Regions from separate parts of the Homo sapiens genome. Here all the other regions are linked to region 1. Evidence: fine-mapped expression QTL. A gene starts in region 1. Each other region holds a variant in brackets. All regions are shown on one strand. Distances are from middle to middle.

Region 1 (10,768 bases):
GCGGAGGTTGCAGTGAGCCAAGATCACACCAGTGCACTCCAGCCTGGGTGACAAGAGCGAGACTCCATCTCAAAAAAAAAAAAAAAAAGATATGCTGAGCATCTTTTCCCGAAAGTGACCTATTTTACTCCTGTGAAAACCTGCACTGGGGGGAGAACCCCTCCCCCATGATCTCCACAGTTGTCTCAGAGGGGCCATGCAGGGTCTGTTCATGTTGTTTTTGTTAATATGAAAGTAATTCAAGGGCAGAGGGGGCAAAATAGCCAGACCCTGTCTCTAAAAAACATTTAAAAATTAAAAATAAGACAAGGCTCCAGACTGGAAGAAAAAAATTTCTTTTAAGTACTCAAACTGTGTTCTGGAAAATCCAGAAAACAGTTACAAGACAAGACATGCCCTTTTGCCACCGTCGCGCCTGGGAACTGTGAGCATTTCTGCAGGAGACCTGTGGGCTGCTGTGGTGCCGTCTTTGTATTGTGGTCATTGCGGAAGGGCGCCATGAAGCCATTGGGCCAGCTGGTGGATCTTGCTCTCCCAGTGAGGGAGCAACTCGAGGACAACTTCGGGACCCACAGGCCAGGCGTGTATCTGCTCTGGTGGGCAGCCTGGGTGCCTGGAGTATCACTGAGTGGCAAACTGCTTGGCAGCATCACACGGTAGGGACACTGGTAACTTCCAGCCAGCATGCGGAGGGCTTCCAGCCCTTCTGCAGGCTCAGGGATGTGCTGGGCCTCCATCCCTCGCCCTCAGAGCACAGGCATTCTCCCTGTCCCTGCCACACTGCCCTTGACCCTGCTGGCTGCTGGGATGTTTCCCACCGCTTTGGGTGAGTGGGCCACGCCGGTGGGTGTTGAAGTGGATGGCAGGACACCTTAACAACCGCTGCCCAGTGCTGTGTCAGTGTTAGGCCCTTACCTTCCTCTACAGTGGGAGGAAACACGGGAGGAGAGGGAGGACCCCACATCCTGCCTGGCAAGTTGCTGAAAAACACCAAGTCACGTGACACATCATATACCGGAGTGTGTGGTGCCACACAGCAGGCACGGGTCTGACCCCATCCTGTCACCCTGCCGCTGTGGCCAGCTGCCTCCTGCACTGTCCAAAGGAGGTCCTGAGCCATCCACCTTCAGAGTCCAAAAGCTGACAGAGATGGGTTGATGAAATGAGGAACTTCTGTTCCCGGTGGCTGGAGGCATCCTCCTCACAGCTGGTGGGGGCGGGGGGACTTCCTTTCTGCCCCTGTCCTACTGTGGGAATCTGAGCTTCTTTCTCTGCCCCATTCAGCTCTTGAGGAGCCAAGGACAGATCCCCAGGCTGGTGCTCCCAACCTGGGGAAGTGAAAAGGGCTTGGGCCGTGACCACCTGCAGGTTCGGTTCAGATTTTAGTTCCTCCATTACACGGGCAACCGCAAGGAAGTCAGGTTCCCATTGAGTGTCTTATTTCCTCAAATAGAATGCAGAGTGTTGGGAGAAATAAAGAAGATGAGAACTCTTGTCAGAGGCACAGGAGGTCTTGGGAAAGAACAATATCATGTAATGATTGTAGATATGGGGTACTGGGCATGTCCCCATGTGCCTGGGTTACACTAACATTTTTACCAACACCTGTCTCCTGCCAGCCTTGGTTGTAAAGAGGGAGAGGAGACTGAGACTCAGAGAGGGTATGGGACTTGCCCAAGGTCACACAGCTAAGAAGTAGTGGAGCCAGGGTTTGAGCCCAGCTCTGTCTATCTCCAAAGCCCATCCTCTACTGAAATTCTAGACATAACTGGGCTGAGCAGAAATCCAGCAAACTTCCACAATCTGCTTAAGCACCTGGGAAAGAAGTGAAGAACGGTCATTTTCTCTGGCCTGCAGGAGGAGCCTAGCAGAGCCGGGTTAAAATCCCAGTGTCTCCACTTGGCATAACCTTAGGCAAGACCCTTCACTTTTGTGAAGCCTGACCCAGGAGGTTGGGGGCTACAGTGAGCTGTGTGTGCAGCACTGCACTCCAGCCTGGGTGACAGAATGAGACCGCCCACCCCTCTCAAAAAAAAAAAAAAAAAAAAAAAAACTAGAAAGAAACACAACAAAATATTAGTAGTTAGTGTAAGTATTTTGGGTGGTGGGTAAAGAATGCCTGCTTTTTATTAATCAAATGTTCTTTAGTTAGAATTTATTCATTGTATTTTAAACTTCTGTTATTATCTTTGATTAAAAGTCTTTTGTTACTTTTATAGTGACAAAAAAACTAAATATGGCATTTTGCACAATACCTATATCATCTTATTCAATCCTCACAATCTGCTGAGATATAATTCTTTCTCCTATTTTATTATTTTTTTATTTTTTTAGAGACAGGTTCTCACTCTGTTGCCTAGGCTGGGGCTGGAGTGCAGTGGCATGATCATAGCTCACTGCAGTCTCGACCTCCCAGGCTCAAGCCACCCTCCTGCCTCAGTCTCCTGAGTAGCTGAGAGTGCAGGTGCATGCCACCATGCCTGGATATTTTATTTATTTACTTATTTATTTATTTATTTTTGAGATGGAGTCTTGCTCTGTTACCCAGGCTGGAGTAAAGTGGCGTGATCTCGGCTCACTGCAACCTCTGCCCCCCCGGGTTCAAGCGATTCTCCTGCCTCAGCCTCCCGAGTAGCTGGGATTACAGGCACGCACCACCACACCCAGCTAATTTTTTTTTTTTTTTGAGACAGAGTTTTGCTCTTGTTACCCAAGCTGGAGTGTAATGATGCAATTTCGGCTCACTGCAAACTCCACATCCCGGGTTCAAGCGATTCTCCTGCCTCAGCCTCCTGAGTAGATAGGATTACAGGCACGTGCCACCACGCCCAGCTACTTTTGTATTTTTAGTAGAGCCGGGGTTTCTCCCTGTTGGTCAGGCTGGTCTCGAACTCCTGACCTCAGGTGATCTGTCCAACTTGGCCTCCCAAAGTACTGGGATTACAGGCGTGAGTCATTGTGCCCAGTAATTTTTTTGTATTTTTAGTAGAGACAGGGTTTTGCCATATTGGCCAGGCTGGTCTTGAACTCCTGACTTCAGGAGATCTGCCCGCCTCACCCTCCCAAAGTGCTAGGATTATAGGCGTGAGCCACCGCGCCTGGCCTTATTTTATTTTATTCTTTTTTTTAAGAGACAGGGTCTTGCTAGTTTGCCCAGGGTGGTCTAGGACTCCTGGTCTCAAGTGATCCTCCTGCCTCAGTCTCCCAAAGTGCTGGGATTACAGGCCACACCCAGCCTCTTCTCCCTGTTTTTTTGTTTTTGTTTTTGTTTTTTGAGACGGAGTTTTGCTCTTGTTGCCCAAGCTGGAGTGCAATGGTACAATCTCGGCTCACTGCAACCTCTGCCTCCCAGGTTCAAGCGATTCTCCTGCCTCAGCCTCCCGAGTAGCTGGGATTAGAGGTGTGTGCCACCACGTCTGGCTAGGTTTTTTTGTATTTTTAGTAGAAACGGGTTTTCACCATGTTAGTCTGGTCTCAAACTCCTGACCTCAGGTGATCCACCCGCCTCGGCCTCCCAAAGTGCTGGGATTATAGGCGTGAGCCATTGCGCCCGGCCCTCTTCTCCCTGTTTTAGAGAGTAAGAAACTGAGGTTCACACAATCAAAGTGATTTGCCTAACGTCATACAACGAGCAAGAGGAGACCTGGGATTTGAACCTATGTTGGTCTGACTCCTGAGGGACAGGGAAATGGAAAAGGCTTATCCCGAGCCTGTGGGGTCAGGATAAGTGGTTGGTCCGGCTTCTAAGCAGATTTCTCTTTAGCCTTAGGAAGAATTTTTAACTAGAATTGGTGAGGCCCGGCGTGGTGGCTCACAGGTGGATCACACCTGTGATCCCAGCACTTTGGGAGGCCGAGGTGGGAGGATCACTTGAGTCCAGGAGTTCGAGGCCAACGTAGACAATAATTATCGAAAGAGTATGGGAGTTCTGGAGAGGTAATGAGATCCCCTTCACCAGGAGGTTTCCGATAGAGGACCATGGAGTGTCCTGGAGGGACATTCGGGAGCCCTGACACTACATCTCCCTCCTCAAACCCAAAGGGCAGAGGCATGTCCCTCCTATGAGACGCAGAACAAGTCGGGCCGCGTCCCCTTTTTCTAACTGGGAGCACTGCTGAGGGGGCGTCTGGGACTTCTTCATCTTCATCATCGCCCCTTCCCCATAGGGTACTGCAGGGGGCGGGGGGCGGGGCTTCGGCGGGGCGGGGCTGCAGGGCTCCCGCGGGCTGGCGGGGCGGCTTCGGCGTGCGGGGCGGGGCATCGGCGGGGCGGGGCTGCAGGGCTCCCGGGGACCGCCCGCCCGCCCCTCAGTCTGAGCCCAGAGAGCCGCGGGGACCATGGAGCCGGTGCCGCTGCAGGACTTCGTGCGCGCCTTGGACCCCGCCTCCCTCCCGCGCGTGCTGCGGGTCTGCTCGGGGGTCTACTTCGAGGGTGAGCGGGGGCTGGAACCCCTCCGAGCACTCCCTTGGTGTGGGGCGGGGGCAGAGACCCGGAGAAGACGTTAGCAATCCGGGGAAACTGCCCCTGGGTTCAAATCCCGACACTGCCACTGGCCAAGCTGTGTGATTTGGGGCCGCACTCAACCTCTTTGGACCTCGGCTTTTGCTTTCGTGGAACGGGGACCGCTGACCTGCCCCGCAGGGTAGTGATGAAAAGTCAGTGGGTTGAGGCGCGGGAGGTGGATGCAGCCGGGCCACTCCTAGGTGGCCCCGCGGTGCGCATGGGACAGAGCTCCGACCGCGCCGGGACGCAGCATTAGGCCGCTGGTGGTCGTGGCTGCGTCTTGATTCTGAAGTGCAGGGTCAGTCTTCCCGTCTGTGTCCTCCCACTCCTCCCCCGGCCCTCCTCTACACTGCCTTCCTTCAGTCCCTGCGTCCACCTTGGCCTTCTGTTTGACCATGGGCAGTACTTGATTTGATCAGCTCTTCAGTTCTCAGCTTAAATGGCGCTTCCTCCCGGAAGCCTTCCTGGCTCTCTGCTCCTTGCACGCCCCCGTACATCTGCCGTCTGCCCGCAGCGGCCTGGTTCACAGGGATGGGCACACAGCAGGCGCACAGTCACTAGTCATTGCCTGAAGGAGCAAGCGGTGAGGGAATAACAGACAGTGGAGGGCAGGGTAAGACAGCACAGTGGATGGGTGGCCAGTGCTGCTCTGTGGGCAGGGAGGACCCGTGGGCCACCGAGTAGGGGAGATGGAGGTGGAGGAGAGAGATGCTGTGTGGGGGTGCGGGTTCCTTCCTTAGAGAGCGAACTGAGGCTTGAAGGCCCTGCCCCATCCTGTTCCCTGGCTGCAGAAAAACGCTCTGTCGCAGCAGCTTCCAGCAGAGTGTTTGAGGTCCCAAGTGGGGTCCTAGACCAAGGAGGTCCCTCATGAAGGGTCCCGCAGGGGGCCACCACCTCGCAGTGGGTCTCTCCAGGTCTGCTTGGGAATCTGGCAGATCTGGGTTCAAATTCTGACTCTACCTCCAGGGGCTTTCTGCAGGAAGGCGCCTGGGATCTGTTTGCTCTTCCCCCAGCCCAGGACCAAGCGTCTTCGTCCTCCCAGCACCCTTTGCCTGCTGGTGTTACAACACCTGTTTCCTCATCCTGCCTGACGCGGGATGGTGGAAATGGTGGAAGTCAGAGTGATGGTGACTAGAGAAGGCCCTGACAGGGTGTGGGTGTGCGGATGGGGTGAGTGCGGAGGACAGATGGCCATGCCAATAGGGGCAGGCGTCTACAGGGCACTCAGAAGGGGCTGGCTGCGTGGTTGGTTAGGAGCACTGGCTCTGGAGGCAAACACCCTGGGTTCAACCTAGGTTTTTTTTTTTTTTTTTGAGACAGAGTCTGGCTCTGTTGCCCAGGCTGGAGTGCAGTGGCACGATACAGCTCACTGCGGCCTCGACCTCCTGGGCTCAAGTGATCCTCCCACCTCAGCTTCCTGAGAGGCTGGGACCACAGGCACGCACCAGGACAACGTCCAGCTAATTTTTGTATTTTTTGTAAAGATGGGGTTTTGTCATTTTGCCCAGGCCGGTCTCAAACCCCTGGACTCAAGTGATCTGCCTGCCTCGGCCTCCCAAAGTGTTAGGATTACAGGCATGAGCCACCACACCAGGCCCTGTTTTTTGTTTAATAGAACATAGGTTGTGTGTGATAGCTCATGCTTATAATCTCAACACTTTGGGAGGCTGAGGTGGGAAGATTGCTTGAGCCTAGGAGTTCGAGATCAGCCCTGGCAACATGGTGAGACATCATGTCTACAAAAAATTTTAAAATAAAAAATTGCAGGGTGTGGTGGCTCATGCTTGTAATCCCAGCACTTTGGGAGGCTGAGGCAGGAGGATCACTTGAACTCAGGGGTTCAAGACCAACCTGGGTAACATACTGAGACCGTGTCTCTACACAAAATAAAAAAATTAGTCAGGTGTGATGGTGCATGCCTGTAGTCTCAGCAACTCAGGAGGCTGAGGTGGGAGGATTGCTTGAGCCTGGGAGGTTGAGGTTGCAGTGAGCTATGATTGCACCACTGCACTCCAGTCTGGGCGACAGTGAGACTCTGTCTCGAAAAAAAGGACGAGGTCTGTGTTGCCCAGGCTGGTCTTGAATTCCTGTCCTCAAGCAGTCCTCCCACTTTAGCCTCCCAAAGTGTTGGGATTACAAGCGTGAGCCACCGCACCCAGCCATAACTTCCAGTTCTGCCTCCTATTACCTGATCATCATGTACAACCTACTCAGCCCCTGAGAGGCTGTTTCTTTTTCTTCTTCTTCTTTTTTTTTTTTGAGATGGAGTCTCCCTCTGTCACCCAGGCTGGAGTGCAGTAGCCTGATTTCAGCTCACTGCAACCTCCACCTCCTGGGTTCAAGCAATTCTCCTGCCTCAGCCTCCTGAGTAGCTGGGATTACAGGTGCCAACCTCCACACTGGGCTAATTTTTGTATTTTTAGTAGAGACGGGGTTTCACCATGTTGGCCAGGCTGATCTCGAACTCCTGATCTCAGGTGATCCCCCTGTCTTGGCCTCCCAAAGTGCTGGGATTACAGGCATGAGCCACCATTCCTGGCCAGCTGTTTCATTATTTAGGAAATTGAAACTGCCTGTCTCCGCAAGAGCAGTCATGGGTCTTAAACACAATGACGCATCAGTAGCCCTTGGCACAGTGCCGGGTATCTGTAGTACCACAGCTGCTGTTCTCACCAGTCTGGAAGGCCCATGCTCTGACATTGTAAACAGACTGTGGTTTATGACTGGTGGGCATTTTCCTGGCAGTACGTGGGGAGGTTTTCATCAGTTTCTCAGGGCTGATGTTGGAGCTGCCCTGTGGGTGGGGCTGGGTTCAGGTGGCCTCAAGGTCCTGCCACGTAGTCTGTTGTCCTCCATTAGCTGGATGGAGAGACTGTGCACTCGTGTGTGCGTGAGAGATCTTTATTGAGCAACTTCTGTGTTCTCGACACCACTTACACACTTTAATTAATTAATTTATTTTTATTTATTATTTTTTTTTTGAGACGGAGTCTCACTCTGTCACCCAGGCTGGAGTGAAGTGGCGTGATCTCGGCTCACTGCAAGCTCCGCCTCCCGGGTTCACGCCATTCTCCTGCCTCAGCCTCCCGAGTAGCTGGAACTACAGGTGCCCGCCACCATGCCTGGCTAATTTTTTTTGTATTTTTAGTAGAGTCGGGGTTTCCCTGTGTTAGCCAGGATGGTCTCGATCTCCTGATCTCGTGATCCACCCACCTTGGCCCCCCAAAGTGCTGGGATTACAGGCGTGAGCCACCGCGCCCAACCCTCACTTACACACTTTAAACCAGGAAAGCAGAACTTTGCCCATTGGGCCTCACTCTGTCAGTGCCCCTCTATTTTCCAGGGTGCTAGGAGGGCTGGGTACCGGCCCTGGCTCCGGGTGATCTCCAGGGAGCCACTGACCCCTCTCTGAGCCTGATTTTGTAGCTGTACACTAAGGGAATCCCAACTCCCTTAGTGTACAGCTACAAAATCAGGCTCAGAGAGGGGGATTCACTGGGTTATTTACTGATTTGTGGACTTACCACATACTCAGAGGCCAAGCCCTGTGCTGGCTGCAGTGATGTTGAGATGGATCAGCCCTGCCTGTGAACTCAGTGGAGGAGGCACGGGGATGTGAAAAAGGCCAGAGAAGTGTGCCACAGCGGGGTGCACCGATGCCAGGAGGGGCAAGGACAGCTGAGGACGACTGAACCTGTGGGCATGAGGCAGGAACGACAGAGCAGGGCATGCCAGGCAGCAGGCACCATGTGCAAAGGCATGGCAGAGCAGAGCTTGTTGGGCACCAGGGCACAGGCTGCCCAGCACTTGGCCCTTGTCCAATGGGGAAATGGAGTCCTTGTCTCCGCAGGCTCCATCTATGAGATCTCTGGGAATGAGTGCTGCCTCTCCACGGGGGACCTGATCAAGGTCACCCAGGTCCGCCTCCAGAAGGTGGTCTGTGAGAACCCGAAGACCAGCCAGACCATGGAGCTCGCCCCCAACTTCCAGGGTAAGGTGGGCACCTCTGCCTCCCCATGTGCCCTGGCACTCTCCTGGCACACCCGCAGGCTGCTCGTGGGCTTGCCACGTCCAGCAGTCACTCCCTCCCCTCGGGGTTTGCTCCCGAGGCCCTCACATTCACCACAACCCAGCCTCAAGGGTGGGGATGTCCTCAGAGGGTCGGCAATGCCCTGGACTCAGAGAGGTTGCACCCTCTCCCTCTCAGTCTCTGGTCACACCTGCCTCTGTTCCAAGCCCTGTCCAGGTGCCTGTCTCTGAGTTCACTCACACATTCACTCCCCAAACATCTGCAGACACCCATGTGTGCCAGGCTCCGTGTGGCGGGCTGTGGGTATGGGGGTCAGGATGAATCAGGTGCCACCCTCTCCAGTGGGGAGCTTCTGGGATGACAGTGAGAGGAGGCCAACAGTAAAAGGAGTCATAAGCTTTAGAGAGGGGTCTGAGCAACAGTAACCTGCCTCAGGATCTGTGAGGGCTTCTTGGAGGAGGTGGCATCTGAACCAGAAGAAAGATCCCAGCCACAGGGAGTAGCATGTGCACATTTGGTGCTCAGGAAACCCCAAGGAGCTCAATTCTTATTATTTTTTTTTATTTTTACTTTTTGGAGATGGAGTCTCGCTCTGTCACCCAAGCTGGAGTGCAGTGGCGTGATCTGGACTCACTGCAAGCTCTGCCTCCCGGGTTCCCACCATTCTACTGCCTCAGCCTCCCGAGTAGCTGGGACTACAGGCGCCCGCCACCACACCCAGCTAATTTTTTTTGTATTTTTAGTAGAGACAAAGTTTCACCGTGTTAACCAGGATGATCTCGATCTCCTGACCTCGTGATCTGCCCGCCTTGGCCTCCCAAAGTGCTGGGATTACAGGCATGAGCCACCATGCCCGGCCAGAGCTCAATTATTTTAAGAGGCATGTAGTGTGGTGGGCCATGGCCTGGACCCTGAAGCCAGTGGCCTGGAATTGAATCCCAGTGGCCTTGGGCAAGCTAGGCAGGTTCCTCTCTGGGCCTCTCTGGGACCTCCCTGGGCCTCAGTTTCCTCTTCTGTAATGAGGGCGATTAGGCTTGATATGAGGATGAAATGAGCTGATATGTATACAGCACTTAGAAGGGGGCCTGGGACAGGCTGGGTGCAGTGGCTGGTGGCTCATGCCTGTGATCCCAGCTCTTTGGGAGGCTGAGGCGGGTGGATCACCTGAGGTCAGGAGTTCAAGACCAGCCCGGCCAACATGGTGAAACCCCATCTCTGCTAAAAATACAAAAATTAGCTAGGGGTGGTGGGGGGCACCTGTAATCCCAGCTATTCAGGAGGCTGAGGCATGAGAATCACTTGAACCTGGGAGGTGGAGGTTGCAGCCTGTGCAATAGAGAGAGACTCTGTCTCTCAAAAAAAAAAAAAAAAAAAGTGGGGAGGGGGCACCTGGTACAAAGCAGGCACACTCTGAGGACTGGCTGTTATGTGACTGCCTGCCAGATGCGGGAAAGTGTGGCTTCCAGGTTAGGGGCAAGTTGTGTGGGGAGCCGCAGGAGCCACACCACCTGGGGGCTATGTGGTGTGCTGACACTGTTTGTTCTTTATTTCGAAGGCAATGAGGAGCCAGTGAGGGTTTTTTGTTTCATTTTTAGTAGAGACAGGGTCTTGCTATGTTCTCCAGCCTGGTCTCACTCAAACTCTTGGGTTCATGTGATCCTCCTGCCTCGGCCTCCCAAAGTGTTGGCATTACAGGCGTGAGCCAGTGTGCCCAGCCAAAAACGGCCTCAGGTTTCCTTTTTTCTTTCCCCCGTCAAGTGTTAAACATTTGTTACATGTGTTTCTCTCCCTCTCCATACATACACACACACGAATGTATTACTATATGTGTATATATGGATGTGTTTTTTCTGAACCATTTGAGAGTAAATTGCAGACATGTTCCCTTTTACATCTATATATTACCCCTAAATATTATAGTATCTCCCCAAAACAAGGACATTCATTCACATGGTTCAATGATCAAATTCAGGAAACTTAATTTTGGTACAGTACTACTGCCTAATCCATGGGCTGTATTTGAATTCCAGCAACTATCCTCATAATATGCTTTATAGCAGTTTTTCCCCTCAATCCAGAGTCCAGTCCTAGATCACACATCATATTCAGTTGTCCTGTTTCTTCATTCTCCTTCAGACTGGAACAGTTCCTCTGCCTTTGTCTTGACATTGACATTTTGAAGCATCTGGACCAGTACTTATGTAGAATATCCCTCAGTCCCAGCTTGTGCAGTGT
Region 2 (10,768 bases), 61 kb after region 1:
TGGTCAGAATGGTCTCGATCTCCTGACCTCATGATCCGCCTGCCTCGGCCTCCCAAAGCGCTAGGATTACAGGTGTGAGGTCACCATGCCCAGCCTATTTATTTATTTATTTATTTAATGAGATGGGCTCTTGTTGTGTTGCCTAGGCTGGTCTTGAACTCCTGGGTTCAAGCAATCCTCCCATCTTGGCCTCCCAAAGTGCTGTGATTATAGGTGTGAACCACTGTGCTCGGCTGGAGGCATCTTTTTCTAATTCACACAAAGGCCTAGAGGAGTCCCCTTTTCTACATTCACAAAGATATCTTATTGGTTACTGGTGGTGGTGATGATGGCGTCTTCAGGGGACACTGACCAAAAAGCTGAGGTATTTAAAAGAAGCCCTTGCAGGCCTGGTGTGGTGACTGATGCCTGTAATGCCAGCACTTTGGGAGGGTGAGGTGGGCGGATCCCTTGAGCCCAAAAGTTTGAGACCCACCTGGGTAACCCAGCCAAACCCCCTTTTTGCTAAATATACAAAAATTAGCCAGGCGTGGTGGTGTGCGCTTGTAGTCCCAGATACCTGAGAGGCTGAGGTGAGAGGATTGCTTAAGCCTGGGAGTTCAGGGCTGCAATGAGCCATGATAGTGCCACTGCACTCCAGCCTGGGTGACAGAGCAAGACCCTGTCTCAGAAAAAAAAAAAAAGAAAAGAAGCCCTGCATGCAGTCAAAAGCTGAGTAAGACTCCAGCACCCCTCAGATGGGCTTATGAGGAGCTCCTGTGCCCTCCCAGAACTCTCTCCCTTGTTCCAATTTCAGGTGTAACCATTGCCAACTGCCTGCTCAGCCCTGGGAGCACTGGCTGCCCTAGACTCCTTGCCTGCCCTCCTTCCCCACCAGTCCCATAGGTTACCTTCCACGCATACCTCGACATGCCCTAGATTATAAATCAGGCCACAGGCTCAGGGGCAAGAAAAGTCACACGGCTTTATTTTCATTAAATCAATAGCAGTGGGTCTCTGAGCTTTCTTCCCTCGGGACTGGCAGAAGATTCAGTCTCAGTGATTATTTTGATGCCCCTCATTTCCTTGGGGTGACCTAGGCCCTAAACAGAAATGGGGCTTTAGTCTGTAGTTGTTTGTGGACATAATATACTCATCGGCTAAGGCTACACAGTTCCTAGGGGCTGGAAATTCTGCTGCACCTCTGACCCCAGGGACTTAGCTAGGCCAGGAGCCTTGTGGTTGATTCATTTGTGCAATGCCCATGTTTTCAGCTGAATGTAAGCCCTGTGAAGGCAGAGGCTTTGCATTGTTGCATTGTTCACCACTGTCTTTTTTTTCTTTTCTTTTTCAGACGGAGTTTGCTCTTGTTGCCCAGGCTGGAGTGCAATAGCGTGGTCTCAGCTAACTGCAACCTCCACCTCCCGGGCTCAAGCAAGTCTCCTGCCTCAGCCTCCCGAGTAGCTGGGATTACAGGCATCTGCCACCACATCCAGATAATTTTTGTAATTTTAGTAGAGATGGGGTTTCACCATGTTGGCCAGGCTGGTCTTGAACTCCTGACCTCAGGTGATCTGCCTGCCTCGGCCTCCCAAAGTGCTGGGATTACAGGTGTGAGCCACCGCGCCCAGCCTGTTCACCACTTTCTAGACATCCAATATTTATTGAACCCAAGTAAATGTCCAAGGACTTCCTGTCTGAGAATCTGCTACCTTCCAGGGGCAACCTGAACTCTTAAGATCCAGCAACGTCTGTTTGCTGCCCTGGCTATGCCAGTCTCCCCTCTCTTATGACTGTTCCCTCCCTCCTTTCACTACCCCCTCTAGGAGGTCAGAGGACACACCCTGGAGGTAGCTGTCTCCAAGAAGCTGTGGCTTTCTACTCTGCCACATCCTCCTCCAAGGGAAGGGATCTTTGCTACCTACTTAGAATGGGGTTTAAAAATACAGTTAGAGGCCAGGCGTGGTGGCTCAAGCCTGTAATCCTAGTACTTTGGGAGGCCGAGGCGGGCGGATCATGGGGTCAGGAGTTCGAGACCATCCTGGCCAACATGGTGAAACCCTGTCTCTACTAAAAATACAAAAAAATTAGCCGGGCTTGGTGGCGGGCACCTGTAGTCCCAGCTACTCGGGAGGCTGAGGCAGGAGAATGGCGTGAACCCGGGAGGCGGAGCTTGCAGTGAGCCGAGATGGCACCACTGCACTCCAGCCTGGGGGACAGAGCCAGACTCCGTCTCAAAAAAAAAAAAAAAAAAAATACAGTTAGAACAGGAACTACTCAACCAATTACCCAGCCACAGCCTCTTCAGTTCCTCCCTACTACTAGTTACCAGTTCCTAAGCGTAGCCCCTTACAGCTTTTCACCAAGACTTCTGCTATGGTTTAAATGCTTGTTCGCTCTAAAGCTGGTGTTATAATTGGTTACCATTATGGAGGTATTGGGAGGTTGGACCTTTAGAAGGTGATTGGGCCATCAGGGCTCCACTCTCATGAGTGGGAGTAATGCTGTTACAAAAGGGCAAGTTTGGTCTTCTTTTGTCTTGGCCCTTTGCCAAGACATGCCATGTGAGGACTCAGCCTTTCTCCTCTCCAGAGGATGCAGCATGCAAGGCATCATCTTGGAAGAAGCGAATGGCCTTACCAGACACCCAGCCTGCTGGTGCCTTGATCTTACACTTTCCAGCCTGCAGAACTGTGAGCCAATACACTTCTGCTCTTTATTAAATACTCAGTCTCAGGTATTCTGTTATAACAGCACAGAAAGGACTATGACAACTTCCCTGCCTTAGCCTCCTTGCTTGCTGGTTTCCCCAAAAATCCATCTTCCACAGAGCCAGTGCATCTTTCTAAAATGCAAATTAGGTTGTGTCTCTGCCATAGCTCCCCACAGCTCTCAGCTCAAACAGCTGAGCACAACCTGGCTCCTGCCTGCTTCCCCAGGCTTAGCACCCCAAGCCCAATATCACCCAACTCAGCTCTCTGGGATGATTCAGCTCCTTCTGCCTGGGATACCCTCCTCCCCAGCTTTCTCCTTTTCCTGCTAACTCCTACTTGTAAATTAAGGTTAAGCTGGTGGGACAACCATATCTTACGTGCTTTGCCATGCAAAACAACAGGAAAGACCCAAGACCACCTGAGAAGTCTTCTTCCCCAAAAGTCAAACCTGAATGTCATCAAACCCTTGGCTGTAACTATCAGTTTACAGGAAATATGGGGGACAGAGGAATATGTTAAATGACACCACCAGAAAGGAATCAGCCAAATCCTCCAGAATGTGGGAAATTCACAGGACAAAGAACAAGGAAAAAATGGGGAGAGGGCAGGAGAGCTACAAATTAAGGGAGACTTAAGAGACACATCTACCAAATGCAATGTGTGGACCTTGTTTGGACCCTGATTTGAAAGAACCCGCTGTAAAAAAAAAAAAAAAAAAAAAGAGACATCAGGGAAATTTGGTGACATCAGGGAAACTGACCACATATCTGCCTGGTGGAAGTAAGGAATTACTGTTTTTCTTTTTCTTTCTTTTTTTTTTTGAGGTGGAGTCTCGCTCTGTCGCCCAGGCTAGAGTGCAGTGGCACTATCTCGGCTCACTGCAAGCTCCGCCTCCCGGGTTCAAGTGATTCTCCTGCCTCAGCCTCCCAAGTAGCTGGGATTACAGGTGTGAGCCACCACGCCTGGTGGAATTACTATTTTTTTTTTTAGATCTGATAATGTGTTAGAAAAAGAGAGTCCTAGCCGGGTGCAGTGGCTCACGCCTGTAATCCCAGCACTTTGGGAGGCCAAGTTGGGCAGATCACCTGAGGTTGGGAGTTTGAGACCAGCCTGACCAATATGGAGAAACCCCATCTCTACTAAAAATACAAAATTAGCCAGGTGTGGTGGCGCATGCCTGTAATACCAGCTACTCGGGAGGCAGAGACAGGATAATCACTTGAACCCGGGAGGCCGATTTTGCGGTGAGCCGAGATCCTGCCATTGCACTCCAGCCTGGGCAACAAGAGTGAAACTCCATCTCAAAAAAAAAAAAAAAAAGAAAGAAAGAAAAAGAGAATCCTTACCTTTTAGAGATAAATACTGTTTACGTTCAAGATGATATGATCACTGGAATTTAACATCATACAGTGAGGGCCAGGTATGATAGCTCACACCTGTCAGCCCAGTGCTTTGGGAGGCTGAGGTGGGAGGATCACTTGAAGCCAGGAGTTTGGGACCAGCCTGAGTAATGTAGTGAGATGCTGTTTCTAAAAAAAAAAAAAAAAAAAGCCAGGTGAGGTAGCGAGTGCCTATAGTTCCAGCTATTCCAGAGGTTGAAGCAGGAAGATAGGAAGATAGCTTGAGTCCAGGAGCTCGAGGCTGCAGTGAGCTATTATTATCTTGCCACTGCACTCTAGCCTGGGTGGCAGAGTGAGACAACCCCCTTCTTTTTTTTTTTTTTTTTTTTTTTTGAGACAGAGTCTTGCTCTATCACCCAGGCTGGAATGCAATGATGCAATCTTGGCTTACTGCAACTTCTACCTCCCAGGCTCAAGGGATCCTCCTGCCTCAGCCTCCCAAGTAGCTGGACTATAGACATGTATTACCATGCCCAGCTAATTTTTTTATTTTTTGTAGAGATGGTGTTTCACTATGTTGCTCAGGATGGCCTCAAACTCCTGGGCTCAAGCGATCCTCCTGCCTTAGCCTACCAAAGTGCTGGGATTACAGACATGAGCCACTGCACCCAGCCTGAGACACTTCTCTAAAAAAATACATAAATAAATAAAAGTTAAAATAATAAAAAATTTTAAAAGTTGTTTAAATAGGGCCGGGCGCGGTGGCTCATGCCTGTAATCCCAGCACTTTGGGAGGCCGAGACGGGTGGATCACAAGGTCAGGAGATCGAGACCATCCTGGCTAACACAGTGAAACCCCGTCTCTACTAAAAATACAAAAAAATAGCCGGGCGTGGTGGCGGGCGCCTGTAGTCCCAGCTACTCGGGAGGCTGAGGCAGGAGAATGGTGTGAATCCGGGAGGCAGAGCTTGCAGTGAGCTGAGATGGTGCCACTGCACTACAGCCTGGGTGACAGAATGAGACTCCGTCTCAAAAAAAAAAAAAAGTTGTTTAAATACATAAAATAATCAAAAGTGAGTATAGATGAAATAAGAGTGGCCATAAGTTCATAATTACTGAAGCTGGAGGAAGGTACTTGGGGGTTCATTACACCATTCTCTCTCCTGTTTCTGTTTGACTGTTTCCATAATACAATGTTAAGAAAGGATTAAACGTGTCACCCCCTCCTAGAAGCCCTCTCACATTCCTCAGTCTGAATTAGATCCCCCTTTCCGGGGCTTGCCAATACACCTGATGTGCTGACCGGCAATTCTGTTGTTTGCCCCTCCCTCTTGGGGGCAGGGGCTGCACTGGCAGGAGAGGTGTGGCTTCCACTTAAGGGTCCGGTATGCCTGCCTCCTCGGGCCAGCCCAGATCATACCCTGCTGGGCAAAGGAGGAAGAGCCAGAGGATCCAGACGCCTTGGAGGACTTGGAACACCTGTAACAGGACAAGGAGTTCTGCTC[A/C]GGCACGTGGCCACAGAAAACTACTTAGGAAGCCTGTGGTGAGAACAACAACAGTGCCTGAGAATCCCACGGCTCTGGGGAAGTGAGCCCCGAGGATGAGGCTGCTCGCCTGGCTGATTTTCCTGGCTAACTGGGGAGGTGCCAGGGCTGAACCAGGTACAGCACTGGGAATGTCTGCTATGCCTTTGTTTTGTACTGTGAACTCTGGGGCTGCGGGAAGCTGCTCGCAGCCAGCTTGAAGGTGCTTCTAAAGATAGCAAGGCAGGAGCTAGGCAGGGAGGCAGGTGGGGAGAGCTAGTGGGCCTTAGCAAGTGCTGTTTGAGGCTGAAGATTTTAAGTGGAGGCGCCAGCTGGCCAGGGAGGGACACCGACATTGCGAAGAGGTCTGGGTACGTGAGAGCTAGCTAATTAGTAGAGGTAGGAGGTGGCAGGAAAGATTCGTGGACTCATTCAACAAATGAGGTCCTTTCCTGTACCATACGTTATTCTAGGAGCCAGGGATATATCAGAGAAGAAAAGAAAGTCCCCGTCTCAATGAAGAATTCCTTCATCTGGGGAGAAAAAAACAAACCACACGAACAAGTAAAGTACGCAGCATTGGAGGAGATGATAAGTGTTATGGGGAAAATAAAGTAGAACAGGGAAGGCGGGTTGTGGGGAGGGGGTACTTACAAGACGTCCAGAGAAGAGCTGTCAAATCAGGTGACACTCAAGTGGAGCCTTGAGGCAGTGAGTGGGGGAGCCACATGGGTGTCCAGAACATTACAGGAAGAGAGGACAGTGCACGGGGTCTGAGGTGGACACACAGGAGATGTGCATGAGGAACAGCAAGGAAGCCCGCGTGGCTGAAGCAGGGTGGGCAGGACAAGTGGGGGTGAGGTTGGCAGATGGTGGGGTGGGGCAGGTGCCAAATCATGGATAGCCTCGAAGACTCTCTTGAGGACTCAGACATTTTTCTTTCCACGTGCCTGTAGATAGGAAGGACGCAGGCTTTTGCTCAGGGTGAAATGGGATGTCATTGGAGGGTTCTAGGCACAGGTGTAATCTATTCTGACTTCTGTATGTTTAAAAGGACCCTTGAGGCCAGACGCAGTGGCTAACATCTGTAATCCCAGCACTTTGGGAGGCTGAGGAGGGTGGATTGCTTGAGTCCAGGAGTTTGAGACCAGCCTGGGCAACATAGCAAAACCCTGACTCTACTAAAAATACCAAAAATTAGCTGGGTGTGGTAGTGGGTGCCTGTAGTGCCAGCTACTTGGGAGACTCAGCTGGGAGAATTACCTGAGCCTGGGAGGTTGAGGCTGCAGTGAGCTGTGATTGTGCCACTGCACCCCAGCCTGGGTGACGGGAATGAGACCATCTCAAAAAAAAAAAAGAAAATGAAAGAAAAAAATTCTCTTTATAGCCCCTCTGAAGTAGGTGCTAATATCATTATACCCATTTTGCAGATGAGGCAAATGAGTCTCAGAGGGGACATTGCACTTGCTGAAGATCTCCCAGCTGGGAAATGGCAGGACAAAGCCTGTGCCTGGCTGTACTATGCTTCATGTCCTCTTGGGATGGTGGGGTTTAGAGGTACTATTTTTTTCTCTTTTCTCCAAACTTGCTGGAATGTATTCCTTTTAAAGTAAATTTAAAAGGAATTCCGGGCCGGATGCGGTGGCTCACGCCTGTAATCCCAGCACTTTGGGAGGCCGAGGCGGGCGGATCACGAGGTCAGGAGATTGAGACAATCCTGGCTAATACGGTGAAACTAAAAATACTCTACTAAAAGTACAAAAAATTAGCCAGGCGTGGTGATGAGCACCTGTCGTCCCAGCTACTTGGGAGGCTGAAGCAGGAGAATGGGGTAAACCCGGGAGGTGGAGCTTGCAGTGAGCCGAGATTGCACCACTGCACTCCAGCCTGGGCGACAGAGTGAGGCTCCGTCTCAAAAAACAAACAAACAAACAAACAACAACAAAAAAAGGAATTCCGCAGCACCTGTAAGGTTTTTCCAACTCCAGGTGTCTTCCTGAAGCACAGGTGGATTCTGAGACAGGGGATCAGACAGCATCATCCCTGCTTTGCATTAAACTGTGGGATTTCTGCCTCCACTTTCCTTAGCCAGGAGCTTGGGTGGATGCCAACTTGCTGGCTCCTTCTCCTCCTACACATGTCCTGTGTAACATTTCGCTCCTTCCTCAGCTTCTAACTGCAGAGAAGCAGACAGGTTCTTCCCCTGTGGGTTAGCTTGGTAGGAAAACACTCCCTGGAAGGCCAGCCCAGGGCTGAGGGAGCAGGACCAGGGCAGGAATGGTAACACCTACCTCTGGAGCTATTGTGAACAGAGGGTATTCACTGTAGGTGGTCCGTAAATGTAGGTTTTAACAAATGAACTCCATGGGTTTTGGAGGGCCTCCATTTACAAAGGATGAATTACAATTGTGTTTTGGGGCTAATGCTAGCCTTAATAGCAAAGGACTGAAATAGAGACTGAGACCATTGTGTGGTGTGGGTTATAGGCAATAACAGACAAAAGCCACTGAATCACAGGAGTCAGACTAGGAGGGCCTTCAGGGAACCTCTGTTCAGTACTTTCATCTTATACTTGAGGAAACGGAGGCTGAGGGGCAGTGTGGCCCAGGGAATGAGTCCTAAGGCTGCCTTGCTCACCCCACAGCCAGGTGCTCTGTATAAGAGAACTCTTTTACCTGCACAACTGAGGCAGGAGGTGGGACTGGACTCCAGAGGCAGGGCTTTGACACCAGACCAGATTGAGGACTAGCTAAAATACGGCCTGGGCAAAAGCAGTTTTCAAACACACCCAGCAGTGTGGCATGTCAATTTACCTTTGCAATGGCAACACCCAGGAGTTACTGCCCCTTCTATGGCAGTAACCCAATGATTTAAAAGTTACTACCCCTTCCCTAGAAATTTCTGCATAAATGCCCCTTAATCTCCAGGCAATTAAAAGTGGGTATAAATGTGACTGCAAAACTGCCCTGAGCTGCTACTCTCTGCCTCTGGGGTAGCCCTGCTCTGCAGGAGCAGTCATGGAGCTGTACATCACCTGTTCACCAAAGCTGTTTGCTTCAACCTCAAGCTTGCCCTTGAATTTTTTCCTGGGCAAAGCCAAGAACCCTCATGGGCTAAGCTCCACTTTGGGGCTCACCTGCTCTGCATCACAAGCATCCCTCTGCTGGGTGCATTCTAATCCTCATTTTATAGATGAGGAAACTAAGGCTCAGCTCTGAAAATCCCTTGCTTAAGTTGCCACTGCCTGTATGGAAGAGCCAGGATTCAAAATAAGATGTCCCTGATTGCAGGTTTCATGCATGTCCTTGCAGAAATAACTTACTGCCTGAAGCCAGAAAACTTAGGTCCTACCTGTGGTCCTGCCTTTGAATACCTGTGTGACCTGCAACCTTTATTTTACTGTTTATAAAATAGGGATGTTAGCAGAGGAGAGATTAAATGTGATGGCCTTAAGTGAGATCATGCCAGGTACATTGTAAAATGTTGTAAAAGTTTAAGGAGGCATACACACAGATGGTCCCTGACTTACGAAGATTCCACTAAGCTGTATGATGGGGCGAAAGCCTTAGGCATTCATTAGAAACCACACTTCGAGAAGCCATACAACCACTCTGTGTTTCACTTTCAATTCAGTATTTAATACATTGCAAGAGACATTCAACACTTAATTATAAAATAGGTCTGCATCAGATGATTTTGCCCAACTGTAGGCTAATGTAAGTGTTCTGAGCTCCTTTAAGGTAGACTGGGCTAAGCTACGATGCCCTTTGGTAGGTTGGGTGTGTTGAATGCATTTTTGACTTATGATATTTTCAATTTTGGGGGACGTAGCCCCATTGTAAGTCAAGGAAAACCTGTATATATCTCCAAGGCCATGCTGGTAGGTGGTGGCAGAATATAGTGCACTGTGATCATTTCCATTCTGACGTGCTCGGCATCCCCGGTCTGCCGCTCACTCGCTCAGTTTCCTCATCTGTAAAATGAGTACATCTTAGGATGCATTTCATAATGTTGTCATGAGGCTGCATGGATAGAGTGTGTGGCACAGTGTCTGGCATTCAGTAGGTGCTAAATGAATGGCAGATGCCTTCCTGCCCCCCTGTCTCCAACCATAAGGGAACTCACCTTCTAGCCATTTTAAGAACTTAGGTTTTATAAATGACTATGACTATGGGAGTTCTCCCCACCCCTATCACAAATCATACTAAAAAGATCCCATATCATGTATGATTTTAATTTTTTTATCTTATTTTTCTTTTTTGGAGACAGGGTCTCTATCTGTTGCTCAGGCTGGAGTGCGGTGCTGCAATCATAGCTCAAGGTAACCTCAAACTCCTGGACTTTAGGGATCCTCCTGCCTCAGCCTCCCAAGTACGGAGAAATTAAATTTCTTTTTAAAAAGTAGCTGAGTGTGGTGGCATATACCTGCATTCCTAGTGTGGTGGCTCATACCTGTAATCCTAGCACTTTGGGAGGCCGAGGCAGGCAGATCACTTGAGCTCAGGAATTTGAGACCAGACTGGGCAACATGGCAAACCCCACCTCTACAAAAAAGTACAAGAAAATTTGCCAGGCCTGGTGGCACGTGCCTGTAGTCCCAGCTACTTGGGGGACTAAGGTGGGAGAATCAGTTGAGCCCAGGAGGTTGAGGCTGCAGTGACCCAGGATCACACTGCTGCACTCCAGCCTGGGTTTTTGTTTGTTTGTTTTTGTTTGTTTGTTTGTTTGTTTGTTTTTGTAGAGGCACGGTTTTGAACTCCTGGCCTCAAGTGATCCTCCCACTTTGGCCTCCCAAAGCACTGGGATTACCGGTGTGAGCCAATGCATGTGGCCCATGAGATTTTTAATATTGCTTTTGAAATGAATTGTTGATTTTGATGACTTACTTGATATTTGTAATTTTTGTCTTTCCTGCACTTTTAGAGTCAATGCATTTTTTTCCAAGTCTCAGATATTTCTGTGGGCCTTGCAGAGCTATGAGGCCTTGGGCCCTATGTCTGTTGTCCCTAGTGAGCATAAAGGCCTGGTGATCCCCTTTGGTGAAGGAGGAGGCGGGCCAGGACACTTTTTGCCTGCCCAGGGACGCGCTGTGCCCACCAGTCCTCCTCTTAGAGATGGTCATCTGGGGCAGACAGGCTCTATCTTCATCTTGTTTCCCTTCAGATGTCCTGCCTGCCCTGCCCCTGCACTTTACCTGTGGACAGTAGCCAAG
Region 3 (9,384 bases), 24 kb after region 1:
ACAATGGGGACAGTAACAGCAACAGGACTGTACACCTGACGACCAGGAGCTAAGGACTTCCTTCCTCCAGTCTAAATCCCATAATGAAATCAGGTCAACTTTTTGCTCAGAATTATTATATATCCCTCACATATAGTGGTCCTTAGTGCTTGCTGAATGAGTGATGTGATGGGTAGCACCATTTTGGCCCATAGTCTTTTTCCTATTTTTCCATAGCTGAACGATTTCCATTCTGCCAACAGGGTTGCAGTTAAGTTTTTTTTGTGTGTGTGACAGTCTCACTCTGTCATCCAGGATGGAGTGCAGTGGCACAATGATGGCTCACTGCAGCCTTGACTTTCTGGGCTCAAGCGATCCTCCCACCTCAGCCTCCTGGGTAGCTGGGACTACAGACATGCGCCACTGTGCCCGGCTAATTTGTTTTTATTGTTTTTGTAGAGACAAGCGTTTCGCCACGTTGCCCAGGCTGGTCTTGAACTCCTGAGTTCAAGCAATCTGCCCACCTCAGCCTCCCAAAGTGCTAGGACTACAGGCATGAGCTAATGCCTGGCGAACTTTTACTTTTTTTTGAGATGGAATCTCGCTCTGTCACCCAGGCTGGAGTGCAGTGGTGTGATGGTGGCTCACTGCAACCTCCGCCTCCTGGATTCATGCGATTCTCTTGCCTTAGCCTCCGGAGTGGCCGGGATTACAGTTGCGTGCCACCATGCCCGGCTAATTTTTGTATTTTTAGTAGAAACGGGGTTTTCACCATGTTTGCCAGGCTGGTCTCGAACTCCTGACCTCAGGTGATCCACCTGCCTCGGCCTCCCAAAGTGCTGAGATTACAGGCGTGAGCCACCATGCCCGGCTGCCAAGTTTTACTTTTTAAACCCACTTCTCACTATCAGGAAACCCTTGTGAGGTGAAATAGGTACAATGCCAGAGCCTGAGCTCATGAAAATCAAATACTTACTTGATTGAGGATACAGACATGTGTTTCAGCTGGTTCTTGAGATCCTGAAAGTTCAACCCTTCAGGTCTTGGACAAGCCTTAATCAAATTCAACACCTGAAGATTCAAATCAGAAAGATTTTAGCAATTATTTTGGATCAGCCTCCCCTTTGCAAACCTGAGTCCCTTTATAGAAAAGAAATGAACCAGGTACTTAAACAGTCGTAGCTCATTAAGGAAGTAACAAAATTTAAGACTATCTGTGTTTTGTATTTCTGAAGCCACTCTGGTGGAGGTTACCTGGTTTTGGGCCACAGTGAGGCCATTTGCTGGCATGAAGCTATTCCCACCAAAGTTCCCTGCTTCACTCATTCCTGGATTGCTGATAGGTGCTCTCCCTGCTGAGGGCTGAATTAAGAAATAAGTTAGCAATATTAGAAAATCCATCAAGTTAAACAGTCTTTACTACTTAAAATAGCTCGTTAAGCAGCTTACAAAAAACAATTTATAAACAGTTTCCCAGTTTATAACACTGCTTACATTGGAGTGGACAGCTATTATCTAATGAGTATTTCACAGGAAGATAAAGTAACTCCCCGAAGCACATAAATATCAAAAAGAGAAAGATACTCTTGGCTCCTTTTGTTTGTGATGTCAGACGAACCAGAGAAGAGTAGCAGCAAGAAGAAAATTACCCAGAGTCTGCTATTTTGGTATCCATGGAGCCCAATCATTCAAGCATTCACTGAGTGTCAATAGGCATGAAGCACCACAGGCAGAGAAAAGGAGACACAGTCCCTATCGTCCTCTCTTTCTTTCTTTTTTTTTAACCACCAAATTCTTAAAATGCTCTGCAATCACTATTTTCATTTCCTTTCTCCCCAGTCACTCCTCAGCCCACCATATTTGGGTTGTCCCCCAGTACACCTCTGAAACTGTTTTCACCAAAGTCACCAAAGACTTTTCAACCAATTATCCAAAAGTCTCTTTCAGTCCTCCTAATACTTGACCTCTCGGAAGCAGACACTGCTGACCACACTCCTCTTGAAATGTATTCCTCCCTGGGCTTCTTGACACCACATTCTTCTGGTTCTCCATCTGCCTCTCAAACTGAACCTTCTCAGTATCCCTCATTAGCCTCTTCTATCTGTCTCCCAAAAAGCTGACAGTGTCCCCAGGATCTCATCCCAGACCGCCTCCTAGGCCACAAATCCTCATTGCCAGCCGGACTGCTAACCGGATGCCAACATGGTGAAACCCCGCCTGTATTAAAAATACAAAAATTAGCTGGGTATGGTGGTGCGTACCTGTAATCCCAGATACTGGCGAGGCTGAGGCAGGAGAATTGCTTGAACCCGAGAGGCGGAGGCTGCAGTGAGCCGAGATCACGCCATTGCACTCCAGCCTGAGTGACAGAGTGAGACACTGTCTCGAAAAAAAGGGCCAAGCGTGGTGGCTCATGCCTGTAATCCCAGCACTTTGAAAGGAGGCTGAGACGGGCAGATCACGAGGTCAGGAGATCGAGATCATCCTGGCTAACACGGTGAAACCCCTTCTCTACTAAAAATACAAAAAATTAGCCGGGTGTGGTGGCAGCCGGGTGTGGTGGTGGGCGCCTGTGGTCCCAGCTACTCGGGAGGCTGAGGCAGGAGAATGGCGTGAACCCGGGAGGCGGAGCTTGCAGTGAGCCGAGATCGCACCACTGCACTCCAGCCTGGGCGAAAGAGCGAGACTCTGTCTCAAAAAAAACAAAAACAAAAACAAAAAACCCAAATAAACAAAATTTTAAAAATTTGAGTAAAGGTAATCCTTACCATGGCCTCCAAAGCCCCATATAATCTGGGCCCTGCCTCCTTGCCTACAACCCTCTCCCTCTCCCCTGTCATTCACTTCACTCCAGACACTGGCCTTGCTGGTTTCAGAGATGTCATGCTTACTCCACACTCCTGGCTCTTGCACATCCTAGTCCCTCTGGTTTAGAATGTTCCTCATCTAAAATTGTACCATTCTTGTTCCCTCCATCAGCCTCTTCTCCTGTTTTATTTACTTCAGAGCACCTATATAACTACCTAAAATTATACATATATTTTTGTTTATTACTTGTTTCTCCCAAGAATGTAAGTATATAGTGTTCACTGCTATACTCGAATGCCGACTAGAATGATTGGGACTATCAAATCAAAGTAGGCGCAATAAATATTTTTCTTTTTCTTTATTTTTTTTTGAGACAAGGTTGCTCTGTTGCCCAGGCTGCAGTGAGTGGCACGATCACAGCTCAATGCAGCCTTGACCTCCTGGGCTTAAGTGATCTCCCAACCTCAGCCTTCCAAGTAGCCCATCTAATTCTTTAATTTTTTTTGTAGAGACAGGGTCTCCCTATGTTGCCCAGCGTGGTGTCTTGAACTGGGCTCAAGTGATGCCCCCACACCAGCCTCCCAAAGTGCTGAGATTTCAGGCCATGAACCACCACACCTTGCCCTGAGGGCTTTCTAATACTACAGTCAACTCTAGTTTTGCATGGTCCTAGATGGACTTGTCAAAGTGAATTCACACAATGGAAAATACTAGGGAGAAATTTCAATATGAACCAAGAAATATAATTTCAGGGAAAAAATAATAATACATAATTTTTCCTACTTAGCCAGTAAGTTGGAAGGAAGACAGCAAAATGCTGTCCTGAAGGGGACTACTCTCTGAGTATGCACTGACAATCCTGGAGCTAAGAGCTATATAAGAGCTAAGAGCCTATAATTACATGTCTACACCTGAGGGTTGTCACAGGCCTCAGCTGTCCAGGCCAGTGGAGTCAGAGGAACTCCTAATTCTGAGAGAAACATGAGTGTTTCATCTGGAATAAAATACAATGACAAAGCTAATGGAGAAAGTGTTCTGAGGACTTAGTGATGTCTTTCTCTGGCTCGGCCTTCAAAATATCAAGGAAATCAAAGCTGGAACACAAAAGTAGCCTGTGTTCTTCCAGGGAAGAGAAAAAGCTAGGAAAGCGAGACTACTCACCTGGCTGTTGGCTTTGCTTAGTACCATGTGTGCATTGATCACTTCCAGAATATGTGTGGTGAACTCATTCATATCCTCCAGGGGCATGATCTTAAAGGCTACCAGGCTCTTTTTGTTCTATTAAAATGAAGGAAAAAAATGTGAATAAAATATGAACATACATTAATTTCAGGTCAACACTGTGGCTCTTTCCTTGGTTATAATATTAATATTTCACCAATATGAGAAAAATGTTATATACTCTCAGAGGTATTCCAAATATGGTCAAACATGAGGAGAAAAAAAACTAAAACTAATAGCTAAGGGAC[A/AT]TTAATAATTTTCCCAAGATTGCATAACCAAGCAAAATCTAGACTCCTGACTCCGAATCTAGTGTTCTCCTTTCTCCAACTAATGAACGCCACAGATAGCAATTGTAGAAGGAGATTCTGTTCTTTCTTTACCATTCTGTTAATTTCATGTTAAGGTTAAAAAAAAAAAAAAGAAAAGTTATTTCCTTTTGAAGAGAGTAAGAAATAACTTCCCATTAAACAGGGAGACTTAAGTATTTTAACTATCCAAAAGCCATGACATGAATCTAGAAACTGCTTCATGCAAAAACACTTTAACTGTTATTTTATTCTGACTTTACCTGAAAAGATCTCAGGTGGCCTGCCACTTTCACATATGTTTCTGGAGGAACCACAGTGTTTTCACTGCTGGTGTCCTAACATAAAATACAAACATGTCATTAAAGTTTTAGTGATGCTGGTAAAAGCCTCTTTAACGTTTCTATATTATGTATAGAAAGAGAAAGTTACGAAGTAGAAGAGTTAAAGGATCCTAAAATGGCATTAAGTAGTTTGCCCTGCCTTTTACAACTTATTTTGTAAAACCAGGAATTAGAATAAAAATATCTCTAAAGGTAATTATCAGTTCCAAAGTTCTGTAGCACATCATAAAAAAGCAAACAATTGTGACACTCTCGTTCAAGCTCTTAGGCACACAATTTTCTTTTTTCTTTTTTTGAGAGGGAGTCTCGCTCTGTCACCCAGGCTGGAGTGCAGTGGCACGATCTTGGCTCGCTGCAACCTCCGCCTCCCAAGGGAGGGTTTGAGTAATTCTCCTGCCTCAACTTCCCCAGTAGCTGGGATTACAGGCGCCCGCCACCACGCCCGGCAGGCACACAATTTTCTGGTGGATATACTTATTGGCAAAGCAATTCTACTTTTAGGAATTTAAGGAAGTAATTAAGAACATGCATTAAGATTTAGATTTATCATAGTATAGAATATTAAAAATTTTAAAACAACCTAAATATCCAACATAAAGTACACATTTCTATATAATAGGATACTCCACACTGTTGCAAATGATAACATAGAATTCTATTTACTGCCTGGAAAAACAAGTCATGATACATGGAAAAAAGCTGATTTCCCATTTGGGACAATACACACTAAACTGTTTATAATGGTTGACTAAGATAATTAAAAACGATTTTAATACTTATCAGTTTCCTAGAATATGCACACATTATTTATAAGAAAAATACATTAGCTGATTTTTTTTTTTTTTTTTGAGACGAAGTGTCTTGCTCTGTCACCCAGACTGGAGTGGAGCGGCATGATCTCGGCTCATTGCAACCTCTGCCTCACAAGTTTAAGTGATTCTCCTGCCTCAGCCTCCCAAATAGCTGGGACTATAGGCGCCTGCCACCACACCTGGTTAATTTTTTTGTATTTTTTTTGTATCTTTAGTAGAGACGGGGTTTCCCCATGTTGGCCAGGATGGTCTCGATCTCCTGACCTCATGATCCACCCGTCGCGGCCTCCCAAAGTGCTGGGATTACAGGCTTGAGCCATCGTGTCCGGCCCATTAGCTGATTTTTAAAGTTCTTTTCTGACTACATAAAATGTATTACTTTAAAAAAAATTGAAAATATATCGGGGTATATGGACTCACACCTGTTATCCTAGCACTTTAGGAGGACAAGGCAGGAGGATCCTTCGAGCTCAGGAGTTTGAAACCAGCCTGGGCAACATAGTGAGACCTCGTCTCTAAAAACAAACAAAAAACTAGAAAATATATGCTTAAAAATAAAAACTCTGGCCAGGTGCAGTGACTCATGCCTGTAATCCTAGCATTTTGGGAGGCCAAGGCGAGCAAGTCACTTGAGGTTAGGAGTTCGAGACCAGCCTGGCCAACGTGGTGAAACCCTGCCTCTGTTAATAATACAAAAAAAAGGGTGGGCACAGTGGCTCACGCCTGTAATCCCAGCTCTTTGGGAGGCTGAGGCGGGCGGATCACGAGGTCAGGAGTTCGAGACCAGCCTGGCTAACAGGGAAACCCTGTCTCTACTAAAAATGCAAAGATTAGCCAGGTGTGGTGGTGGGTGCCTGTAGTCCCAGCTACTCGGGAGGCTGAGGCAGGAGAATCACTTGAACCCAGGAGGCAGAGGTTGCAGTGAGAGACTGTGCCACTGCACTCCAGGCTGGGCAACAGAGCAGGACTCTATCTCAAAAAAAAAAAGAAAAAAAAAAAAAAAAAACCACACAAACAAAACAATTGTATTCCCATATACAACATTTTGAATCCACTTGAGAAAAGATCTCTACCTCAACTCCTTTTATCAAAATATATTCCATGTAGATCATAGGTTTAATTATAATAAAAGAAACCATAGAAATAATATGAACAATTTTTTTCTTTTTTTTTGAGACAGAGTCTCGCTCTGTCGCCCAGGCTGGAGTGCAGTGGTGGGATCTCAGCTCACTGCAAGCTCCGCCTTATGGGTTCACACCATTCTCCTGCCTCAGCCTCCCTAGTAGCTGGGACTACAGGCGCCCGCCACCACGCCCGGCTAATTTTTTGTATTTTTAGTAGAGACAAGGTTTCACCCTGTTAACCAGGATGGTCTCGATCTCCTGACCTCGTGATCCGCCCGCCTCGGCCTCCCAAAGTGCTGGGATTACAGGCGTGAGCCACGGTGCCCGGCTTTTGTATTTTTAATAGACAGGGTTTTGCCACATTGACCAGGCTAGTCTTGAACTCCTGACTTCAGGTGATCCACCCGCCTCCGCCTCCCAAAGTGTTGGGATTACAGGCGTCAGCCACCGAACCCAGCTGAGATTTATTTATTTGGTTTTTTGATAAGGTCTCGTTTTATCATCCAGGACGGATTACAATGGTGGGATCTCGGCTCACTGCAGCCTGTGCCTCCCGGGTTCAAGTGATTCTCCTGCCTCAGCCTCCTGAGTAGCTGGGATTACAGGCATGCACCACTGTGCCCGGCTAGTTTTTGCATTTTTAGTAGAGACGGGGTTTTACCTTATTGGCCAGGCTGGTGTCAAACTCCTGGCCTCAAGTGATCCACCTGCCTCAGTCTCCCAAAGTGCTGAGATTACACGCATGAGCCACCGCACCTGGCCAACAGCTCTTTTTTAATCTGAAGTATATATTGGGTGGCTGCTTAAGATTTTTTTTTTTTTTTTGAGATAAGGTCTCGCTCTGTCACCCAGGCTGGAGTGCAATGGCACAATCTGGGCTCACTGCTACCTCCACCTTCAGTGGGGCAAGTAACAGCAGATGTGGTGGAAATAGCAGGAGAACTGGAATTAGAAATGGAGCTTAAAGATATAACTGAATTGCTGTAACTTTATGGTAAAACTTGAGTGGATGAGGAGTTGCTTCCTTTTTTTTGAGACTGAGCCTCACTCTGTTACCCAGGCTGGAGGGCAGTGGCACAATTTTGGCTCACTGCAACCTCCATCTCTCAGGTTCAAGTGATTCTCCTGCCTCACCCTCCCGAGTAGCCAGGATTACAGGCATGTACCACCATGCCCAGCTAAATTTTTTATTTTTAGTAGAGACGAGGTTTCACCATGCTGGCCAGGGTGGTCTCAAACTCCTGACCTCAAATGATCTATCTGGCCGCCTGGGCCTCTCAAAGGAGTTGCTTCTCATGGATGAGCAAATAAACTGGTTTCTTGAGATGGAATCTCCTCCTAGTGAAGATGCTGTGAACATTGTTAAAACGACAATAAAGGATTTAGACTACTCCATAAGTTTAGTTGAGAAAGCAGTAGCAGGGTTTGAGATTGAATCCAATTTTGAAAGAAGTTATACTGTAAGTAAAATGCTATCAAACAGCATGATATAATATCGAGAAATTTTATGTGAAAAGGAGACTCAGTTACTCAGGCAAACTTTGTTGTCTTATTTCAAGAAATTGCCACAGCCAGCTCAACCTTCAGCCAACTACCACCCTCCTCAGTCAGCAGCCATCAACAGTGAGGCAAGAATGTCCACTAGCAAAAACATTATGAATTGCTGAGGGTTCGGATAACTGATTATTACAATTTGTTAGCCATAAAGTTTTTTTTTTTCTTCTTTTTTTGAGAGACAGTTTCGCTCCTGTTGCCCAGGCTGGAGTGCAATGGCGCGATCTCAGCTCACTGCAACCTCCACCTCCTGGGTTCAAGCGATTCTCCTGCCTCAGCCTCCCAAGTAGCTGGCATTACAGGTGCCCACAACCACACCTGGCTAATTTTTGTATTTTTAGTAGACAGGGCTTCACCACATTGGCCAGGCTGGTCTTGAACTCCTGACCTCAGGTGACCCTCCCGCCTCGGCCTCCCAAAGTGCTGGGATTATAGACGTGAGCCACCGCGCCCAGCCACCATAAAGTATTTTTTAACTAAAACAAACAAACAAAAAAAACAAACTTTGGGACTAGTAGAAGCTTCCGAAAGGTAAACTAGAAAAAACTGCACAATTTATTTTTCAAAATTATTTCTTTTTGAGATAGGGTCTTCCCATGCTGCCCAGGCTGGTCTTGAAATTCTGGCCTCAAGTGATCTTCCTGCCTAAGTCTCCTGAAGTGCTAAAGTTACAGGTGTGAGCCACTGTGCCTGGCCTCATTATAAGAGGTCACTATAATCATTTTCAAGTTCTTGCAAACAAAAACACTGTTAGGGGAAGGGGAATCAAAGAGAAAATTTACAAAAACCCCACAAATTGACATTAAACATAGTAAAAAAAAAAATACATATATATGGCTAAAACCAAAGAAATACACATAAAAAAATGACAAAATTTTCACTGAAAAGACTATTTTTTTCTGAGATGGAATATTGCTCTGATGCCCAGGCTAGAGGGCAGTGACGCAATCTTGACTCACTGCAACCTCCATCTCCCAGGCTCAAGCAATTCTCCTGCCTCAGCCTCCCGAATAGCTGGGACTACAGGCACGTGCTACCATGCCCTGCTAATTTTTTAATTTTTTTTATTATTTTTACGTATACTTTTTTTTTTTTTTGAGACAGTCTTGCTCTGTTGCCCAGGCTGGAGTGCACTGGTGTGAAGATCTCCGCTTACTGTAACCTCTGCCTCCTGGGTTCAAGCGAGTCTTGTGCCTCAGCCTCCCGAGTAGCTGGGACTACAGGCGTGCACCACCAT

The links. PIP is the estimated chance that this variant, and not a neighbour inherited with it, causes the effect.
Region 2: its variant is fine-mapped to the expression of THEMIS2 in whole blood (TOPMed, PIP above 0.99).
Region 3: its variant is fine-mapped to the expression of THEMIS2 in macrophages (Alasoo 2018, PIP 0.95).

Annotation. Positions count from the first base shown.
Region 1 is chr1:27,868,235-27,879,002 of GRCh38, forward strand. It overlaps THEMIS2 (thymocyte selection associated family member 2), which reads left to right and starts at 4,310. Exons shown (of 6, transcript NM_001105556.3): 1 at 4,310-4,431; 2 at 8,354-8,494. The coding sequence starts at 4,338. RefSeq lists an enhancer at 1,435-1,484 and a silencer at 4,158-4,427.
Region 2 is chr1:27,929,551-27,940,318 of GRCh38, forward strand. It overlaps SMPDL3B (sphingomyelin phosphodiesterase acid like 3B), which reads left to right and starts at 5,450. Exons shown (of 8, transcript NM_014474.4): 1 at 5,450-5,694. The coding sequence starts at 5,634. RefSeq lists an enhancer at 5,084-5,985 and a silencer at 5,312-5,577. The variant A/C (reference allele first, on the strand shown) is at 5,539.
Region 3 is chr1:27,893,057-27,902,440 of GRCh38, forward strand. It overlaps RPA2 (replication protein A2), which reads right to left. Exons shown (of 9, transcript NM_002946.5): 5 at 4,577-4,651; 6 at 3,949-4,065; 7 at 1,234-1,341; 8 at 956-1,050. Among named protein-coding and RNA genes, the nearest start is that of RPA2, 17 kb to the right of the region's middle. The variant A/AT (reference allele first, on the strand shown) is at 4,257.